Regions from separate parts of the Homo sapiens genome. Here region 1 is linked to region 2. Evidence: fine-mapped expression QTL. A gene starts in region 2. The other region holds a variant in brackets. All regions are shown on one strand. Distances are from middle to middle.

Region 1 (4,508 bases), 21 kb before region 2:
CAAAGCTGGCTCCCAAGGAATACTGCTATCCCTTTCAAAGGAGCTCAGCTCAGTTCTTACAGGAAAATCATCAGAGGAAATACAGTATGGAGGACACCCAAATAGTCTAGTTTTCTAAGCAAGCCTTCCCCATCCAACTGGCCCCAAGCCTGCCTCCTCACCCCGTTCCCAACAGCACTAGGGTTTTGTCTATACACACACAAACACACACACACACACACACAGAGAAAGAGAGAGAGAGACGTTTCTTCACAGTGAGGTTGGCTTTTTTTGGCCCAACACAAAAGTAGCCCTCAGAGCTTGCTGCCATATGAGCTCCAATAGTCAGAAACCTGAAGATAAGACAAGGCCACATTGAGGCTAAAGAATTGCGTGTGAAGGTCGGGCTCGATGGCTCACGGCTGTAATCCCAGGACTTTGGGAGGCCGAGGTGGGTGGATTATTTGAGGTCAGGAGTTCAAGAGCAGCCTGACCAACATGGTGAAACCCTGTCTCTACTAAATATACCAAAATTAGCTGGGTGTAGTGGCAGGCACCTGTAATCCCAGCTACTTGGGAGGCTAAGGCACGAGAATCGCTTGAACCTGGGAGGCAGAGATTGCAGTGAGCTGAGATCTAGCCACTGCACTCCAGCCCGGGCGATAGAGCGAGACTCTGTCTCAAAAAAAAAAATCGCATGTGGACACCTTCCTCCTCCTCCCAGTCCTTCCTCTGACCCACACACCAGGTCCCATGACACACACGTTTCCACAGGCCAAGCGAACCGTGGCGCCATCTCTGAGAAGCAGAACAAGGTTTCCCTGAGGGCCTCCGAGACACCCGGGGGCAGATGTCCAGGCCACTGGCTACCAAGGCTTGACCTCTGAAGAGACGTCTGGAAACAGGGCCTGGTAGTCAGCTGCCCTGGGGCTGGGGGGAGGATGGTCACAAGCCCCACATGAAGGACGCTGCGCTCCCTCAGAGAGTGTCAGAATGGAAAGAGATGTGGGTCCTGTTCCAAGCGTTGCGGACTTAAGAGGTCAGAGAGAATCGCCCAGAAAAAGTTCAGAGGGGCTGGCCCGGAGCTGTAAGGAGGAACCAGGGAACTGTGGTGCCCGGAGTGATTCAATCAGGAGACAGTGAGGCCGGGTCGAAAGCTGGGAGGGCCGGCGCAGATGAGGACTGAGGGGTGGCCGCTAGATCTGGCAGTTTCTGCTATGAGCCCAGAGCCAGCCCCTCAACATCTTCATTTGCAAGCCGGTCCTGACGCACAGAGCAGCGCCTCTGAGCTGCAGGCCTTCCCAGCTCAGTCCAGTCCAGCCCTCCACTACCCAGAAAGAAGGCCCAGTGCGGGAGGAGGGGCTCTGGGTCCCCATCTTGGGGTGGGGCAGGGAGGGCGGGGGCGCACCCGACTCTCCTGGCCCTTCTTACAAGCAGGCTTCACTCGAGGCCTAGCTCCTCCCTGCGGCAGCCACTTCCCAGTCTCCCGCGGCGTCCCCTTCCCCACCTCTCCCTCCTCCCTCCTCTCCTTCTTCCTCCCAGCTGCGGGAACTCACAAAGCAGGGGCGACCGCAACCCCGCAGTCCGCGGGCTCCCGCGCCCCTGCTGCAGCCGCCCGGGGAGGGGAGAGGACGGCCCCGCGGCGCCGCAGAAAGGGCGCCCCTACGCCGCGAGGGGCAGGGAGTCGGGGGGTCTCTGGAATGGGAGGCTCCCCACCCGGCCCAGAGGCAAAGGCGACCCGCTGAAACTGGATGGGCCGGCGGCGGAACTCCGACCCGAGAGTCCCACTCCGAAGATGCCCAGGCTCGGGAGGGCGTCTCCGCCCACAGAGCCCCGCTACCAGGGCTCTCGGCTCGGAAACAGCAGCCCCCGTCCCCGCGCACTCGCACAGCCCCCCGCCTGCAGGCTCATCTCCGGCCCCGCCCCGGGCTCCGGGCTCCGCCGCCCGTGCAGCCTGGCCCCGCGAGACCTCGGGACGCGGGATCGGGCCGGTGGGAAGGATAGTGCCCTGGCGAGGGTGGGCGAAAGAGGCCCCGGTATCTGCGCTCTGCCTACCCGCTTTGGGCCGCTAGAAGGCCTGGCTGGGAGACCCTTTCCGGGAGCTGGGCCGAGGCCTCTCTGGAGTCCCCGGTGGCTGGTCTGGGGAAAGGCCGCGATGTTAGTCCTCACACAATGGACCCCACCCGTGATACCTGCCGACGCCCCACACGGCCTAGGCACCTTGTGCCATATTGGGGGAGCGGGGAGACGGTCTATGTGGACAAGGGACAGGAGCCAACTCGGACTGGAGCGACACTTTCGGGAGTCTGTGCCGCTGAGTGGATGGATGGTCTAGAGGAAGTGGGTGGGAATGCACTCGGGTTGACCCAGTTCTCAGCCAGAAACCGGGAAATCCTTTTCAGTACCAGTCTCCGACCCTCAGCTTCCAAACTATCAGTAAGA[C/G]CTGCCTGGCCTTCCTGCTAAATAGCAAATTTGCCCACTTTTCACTATCTCTATGGCCACCCCCTCTTACCTCACCCATCTCACAATTTGTAATTCAGTCTATGCATCACAGCATGGCACTCAGGTGTAAGAAATGCCACGTCTTTATTTTGGTAAATCTAATTAAATAGACTGGGAGCCCCCTTCTCTCGTTGCCACGGTTGACAGGAAATCTGATATTAGTCATTTTCCTGGAGCCTCATCCTGTCTTTGGGGCTTATCACAATTCCAGGAGGTTCAGGCCATCCTGAGAAGAATCACTATGGCTTCCCTGAGCCCAAGCCGGGGGGCTGGCAGCCCCTCTCCCTCTCCCTAGGGCTTGGCTGGGGACCTCCCAAAGCCTGCCCAGGTTGTGGTATTTCTGCCCAGTTTGCCCAGGCATTCCTATAGCTTCCACATCTGAGCCCATCCCTCAGAGGCCCTGCAACCCAGCCCGCAGGCGCGTGGCCCTTTCTGCACACCTTCATTCCCGGAGGGAAGCCACTCCATCCCTCATCCATCAAAGCACCTGCACTTTCACTCCCTCTCCACCTTGGGCCATCAGTTCAACATCCTCTGCTGGGTGTGGTGGTGCATGCCTGTAGTTCCAGCTATTTCGGAGGCTGAGGCTTGAACCCAGGAGCTCAAGGCTGCAGTGAGCTCTGATCATTCTACTGTGCTCAAGAGCCCATCTCTTGAAGTGGGGGGAAAAGGGGAAAAATCCTCTACGGCGTTTATTCTGGTTCTGGGTGGGCCAGGGCTTCACTGTTTTACATTCCCACCCACAGTGTAGGAGGGTTCCAGTTTCTCCACATCCTTACCAACACTTGTTATTGTCCATCTTTTTCATGTAGCAGTAATTTCTTTGGCTTGTTCCAGAATCTTACATTTTTTTCTTACATAAAAATTGGTATCTAATAAATATGAGTAGATCTCTATTGTTGTGTGGATTAATGGGAATCCAGGAAACAGCTTGTTTTGGCAGGAGGATGGACTCAATTTGGTGTCCAGACTTCTGGACATGGTGGTCTGAGACTGGGAAAAGGGTCTGAGCTGAAGGCGGAGATGCAGACCTCATTGAAATGTGAGCCTCGCCAACCCACAGAAGGTAAAAAGGCTATGAGAGAGGGTGAGTTTACCCAGCAGGAGTGTGGAAAGCGAGAGACGGATGGGGTCAGGTCAGAGCGCTGGGAAACACCCACATTCAGGGGACAGGCAAAAGAAGGAGCCCCCAAGTGGAGGCTGCCCTAAAGCAGCAGAGGAGTCAGAAGAAAACTAGAAAGGAATGTCACCTTGGGGAAGACATCAAGGATGAAGAGTTAACAGGGTTAGAGACCATAACGGCTTCCCTGCAATATGGATTTAGAATCTGTTGAACAAAATGGGCAAAATGTCGTTACATATTGAAGTTTTGTGATGGGTACTATTATTTATTTATTTTGAGATGGAGTCTCACTCTGTCGGCCAGGCTGGAGTGTGGTAGTGAAATCTCCGCTCACTGCAACCTCCGCTTCCCAGGTTCAAGTGATTCTCCTGTCTCAGCCTCCCGAGTAGCTGGGACTACAGGCGCACACCACCACGCCTAGCTAATTTTTGTATTTTTAGCAGAAACAGGATTTCACCATGTTGGTCAGGCTGGTCTTGAACTCCTGACCTCAGGATCTGCCCGCCTCAGCCTCCCAAAGTGCTGGGATTACAGGCGTGAGCCACCGTGCCCAGCTATGTGTACTATTATTTAATTGTCATGTATGTTGGAATTTTTTTCATAGGCGCGAAATTAGTTTTTTTTGTTGTTGTTGTTGTTTTGAGATGGAGTCTCACTCTGTTGCCAGGCTGGAGTGCAGTGGTGTGATCTCGGCTCACTGCAACCTCCGCCCCCCAGGTTCAAGTGATTTTCCTGCCTCAGCCTCCCGAGTAGCTGGGACTACAGGCGCATGCCACCATGCCCAGCTAATTTTTTGTATTTTTAGTAGAGATGGGGTTTCACCATGTTGGCCAGGATGGTCTCGATCTCTTGACCTCGCGATCTGCCCGCCTCGGCTTCCCAAAGTGCTGGGATTACAGGCATG
Region 2 (4,000 bases):
GGAGGCAGCTGAAGAGCCCACTCCCAGCCATGCCACGTGGCAGGTACCATCTTGACAGCCCCCACCCCCACCAGCCAGAACCTCAAAGGACTGGGAGGGGCTTCTCAAGCAAGCTCCAAATAACTGGTTTGGGATTCCTCAGGCAGCCCGCTAGGCCCGCAGCAGCTTAGCGCCTGCTCCTGGTGGTGACGTGGCAGGCAGGAGGCTGAACTATCTCCACCGGCCGGCAGAGGGGGGCTTCCAGCCTGGGAAGCAGGCCTGACTCAGGTCCCAGGGGGTGCCACATATTTGCCAGGGGACTCCAGGAGCCTTCTTGGCCTTAGTTCCCTTCCCATCCGCACATGAATCTCTGAAGGGAAATGCGCTACTGGGGAGAAGGGCAGCCCCACTGAACCCAGCAGCAGGAATGGGGGAAGGCAAGTTACTGCAAGCAGGCCAGCCTCCCACAGCCCAGCCCATCTTGCCACAGAGAAATGCCAGCCCTCAGGCCAAGGTTAGCTGAGTTACAGTCCCACAAAGAAAATACAAGATCACCTAGCCAGGGCTGTGCCCACAGCTAGCTGGACTGAGCAGGGTCTGGAAGGGAAGGGGAGGAGATGATGGGACCCCACCAGAGGGTCCCAAACACTTGAGAGGTCTAAAGTACCTGGAAACTGCCTCAGAGGGAGGTCAATGCCTGCCTTTTTCATTCTGAAAGAAAACAGAAGAGTGAAGAGGGCGGGAGCCGGCAAAGGAGAGATGGTGAGGAGGCCCCTGGCGCAGAGGGCACAACCAGTCCCCAATCTACAGGGACCTTGGAGATCGACCACCTCACTGTAAAATGGGAGAAACAAGGCCAGGGCAGGGGGTCACCCCAGGTCCCTCGGGATAAACAGGGGTCTGCCTTCCCAGCACAGGGGTCCTTCCTCACAGAAGCACAGAGCCCCTCCTGAGGGCTGCATGCGGTGTCCTGTTACACAGCCAGTACAAAAAAAAAATCTCTGCTGGGAGTCCCGGTGACAGAGGAGACAAAGGAGAGGACGGGAAGGGGGGATGGGTACATGAACCATCTGAAGACAGGAGGGTGTGGCCCCGGCCGGAATTCCGGAGAACCAAAGCCCCCTCATTTTCCTCAGGCCTCCATCCGGGCCGTACAGCCCAGAGGGACCAGCGGGAAACAAGGAAGAGGAGGGGCTGAGACTCTGGGCCAGTCTGGAAGTGCATTCATTCTCCTTCCTGCTCTTCAGCCACCTCAGGAATGTCTCTAAGCTGGGGGGCAGGGAACCCCAGCCTCTGGAAGTTAGACCCTGCAGTTTAAACCCTGCAGTTACTCCAAGAACCCTGTGGCAGTGGACAGAAGGAAAGACTCAAATCCTTCTAGTCAGCCCCTTAATCCCCAGAGCAGAGCAGACCCTGCTGACCCCCACTCTCTTTTTTCGGAGTGGTAGGGAGCCTCGCTGGCCAAGTCTTTCCTTTGGCTGCCATCATCTAGGCTGCAAGCTGCTGATCAGAAATTGAGCCACTGTCGCCCACTTCTACCAGAGCACACGGACCCCAGGAGTCGAGACGATTTCACCTCCTTTCCCACCACCGGAAGCTCAAATTCCCTCAGCAAGCCTGTGAGGAGGCTGGGCCACCAATCACCGCTGCCCCTGAGCCTCAACCCCAGAACGGAAGTGACCTGGAACTGCGAGGCCGGCCTATCCTCCCTACCCTTGCGGGAAGAGGCACCAGACCCATCTCCTTCCTCCTCTGTTTCTTTCCGCAGAGGCTCTGCTCTCTGCCCCCAGCCCCCTTTACACAGCACCTAGTCTCGTATCTGCCACCACCACCTTTTAGGGGTCCCTGCACTTTTTCCCAGTCCTCCGAGTGCACGGACTCCCAACCCGGCTCCGATCTCCGCCCTAGCCCTCAGCTGGCACCATCACTGGCTAGCCCTGGGCTCTCGATTCCAAACCCTCCAGCGGCCCCCAAAGTGCCGAGGACTCCAATTTGTAGGCTCTGGCTCGGCACCCAACGCTTCGCAGGGTCCCCTCGCCCCTCTTACTCCCTCGCGCACCCCCAGATTGCTCGGCGCTCCCCCGGGCCGCACGCACGCAGGCGTCTCCCGCCCCTCACCTGGGTCGGGCTGGGCTAGCGCCGGGACGTGACTCTCGCTCTCGAGCCGCGACACGATTCTACTCTTAGCCCGCTCCCCTGCTCCCGGGATCTATATATGGCAGTCCCCACCCCCTCCTGCCCGTCCCGAGAAACTTCTGGAAAGTTGGAAACGCTTCCGGAGGGCGCCCCAGCTCCGCCAAAAAAAGCCAAAGACCTCCCTCAAAACCTCCCCGGCCCCCGGCCCCTCCCTCTGCCGGCGCCTCCCGGCCCCTGGGTCCTACTGCCTCCCTCGGCGGCCCGGGCTGCGGGGCGCCGGGAGTCCCCACGGGGATCAGCGTGTCCTTCAGAGTGCGAGCTTCCTCCCACCCCCAGGCTCTCTGCATAAGCTAGCCCACTCCGAATCGCACGTCCTTTCAGGCGCCCCTTTCCCCGCAGGGGCTCTGCCCCAAGCAGAGCCATCTCCCCTTCTCCCCGCTCTCCCCCATTTTCAAGCTGAAACAATTGAGTCCTGTGCACCCCCTCCCTCTCAGGGGAGACGTTCAGGCTTCTGAAGGCAGTGCCCTTCTCCATACTTGTACATTCAAAAAACCTCAACCTCAGCGATGGCCAGAGGGAGAGGGAGCAGACCAGACCCGGTACCTGCCCGGCACCCGGAAAGTTCAAGTCGTGGAGTAATAGAGGCAGAGATGCCTGGGGAACTTCAGGTGGTCTGGCTGGGCTTGGAGGAGTGCACAGGAAGGAAAACCTGGCTCTCCACTGAGCAAGGTGCTGTGTGACCCTAAGCAGGTTACTTTCCCTTTCTGGGCCTCTGTTCCCTTGGCTGTGAAATGTGGTTCTAAGGCATCCCTTGCTTTTTTTCCCCCCTCTCTCCCTTCCTCAATCCTTGTCACCCCTGGCCCCCTCCCTATTGCATCCCCTCCCTCTTTGGGTCCCCTCCCACAGGCCTCAGGTCTCACTGTCAATTCCTACCCCACCCTCGCAAACTGATAGCTCCTTGACCTCCAAGTTAAGCTAGGGTATTCATTACTGTTCTAGGTGCTGAGGACACAGCTGAGAGCTGAACAAAGTCCTTGCCCTGTGCGATGTCCATCTGTGGGGTATGTACCTGTTAGTAGGGAATTCAGTGATTCAGTGAGGCAGATTATTTAGGAAACCCTAAATAATCTGGGCGACAGTGGCTCAATTTCTGATCAGCCGAGGCTCCCTACCCTCCGAAAAGTCCTCTTTAGTAGTTTAATGATAGCTATTGGATGGACGCAGTATGGAGAGGAAGGGACAGGGTAGGGACTCTTCATTCATTCAGTCATGAATGAATGCATTGAGTATCTTCTTTCTTCTAGGTGCTTGCCTGGATCCTGGGGAGCAAAAAAATCCCAGTACCCAGCAAATGAGTCAATCACCTGGGTCCCTGCCCTCTGTTAGTGGTTGTGGGGAAGCCTGGTGGTGGTGACAAACCTCTCTGTCTGGGTAGGCTTCTGCAGCTCAGAGTCTTTTGAGTACAAGGACTGTGGGAAATCTCAGATCCCAAAAGCTTCAGACTCTGTGATTCAGGGTCAAGGAATCAGAGATTACTTCCACTCAAAGCCCCCAAGGAGTCTTTGAATCCAGCTAAGGAATCTTAACATGTTAAAATCTCAGAGTCGAAGGATTCTGGAATAAATGTATTAAAGACTCTGAGCTGCAAGGCATCTCAGAGGTCAGGGGTTCCTGTCTGCAGCCCCAGGCAGAAGCCCTCTTCTCAGTATCCCAAAAAGGCAAGCACCGAGGCACCTCTAAGAAGAGAGAGCTTACCTCCTTCAGAGGCAGCCCCGCATTCTTTTTTAGGACAGGTCTGATTATTAACAAAAGCTTCCAGCCTTGGCATGGTGTCCATCTCTTTGGGGTGGCTGTCGTGGTTCTCATGTGCTTCCTCCTGCCTCAA

Evidence for each region. PIP is the estimated chance that this variant, and not a neighbour inherited with it, causes the effect.
Region 1: its variant is fine-mapped to the expression of SERPINH1 in monocytes (Schmiedel 2018, PIP 0.95).

What each region holds. Positions count from the first base shown.
Region 1 is chr11:75,580,808-75,585,315 of GRCh38, reverse strand. MAP6-AS1 (MAP6 antisense RNA 1) reads right to left here and starts at 2,120. Exons shown (of 2, transcript NR_145823.1): 1 at 2,035-2,120. RefSeq lists an enhancer at 507-1,086 and silencers at 1,833-1,982, 1,993-2,102. The variant C/G (reference allele first, on the strand shown) is at 2,422.
Region 2 is chr11:75,560,417-75,564,416 of GRCh38, reverse strand. SERPINH1 (serpin family H member 1) reads right to left here and starts at 2,164. Exons shown (of 5, transcript NM_001235.5): 1 at 2,098-2,164. RefSeq lists enhancers at 865-1,403, 1,404-1,944, 1,945-2,484 and silencers at 2,109-2,158, 2,169-2,428.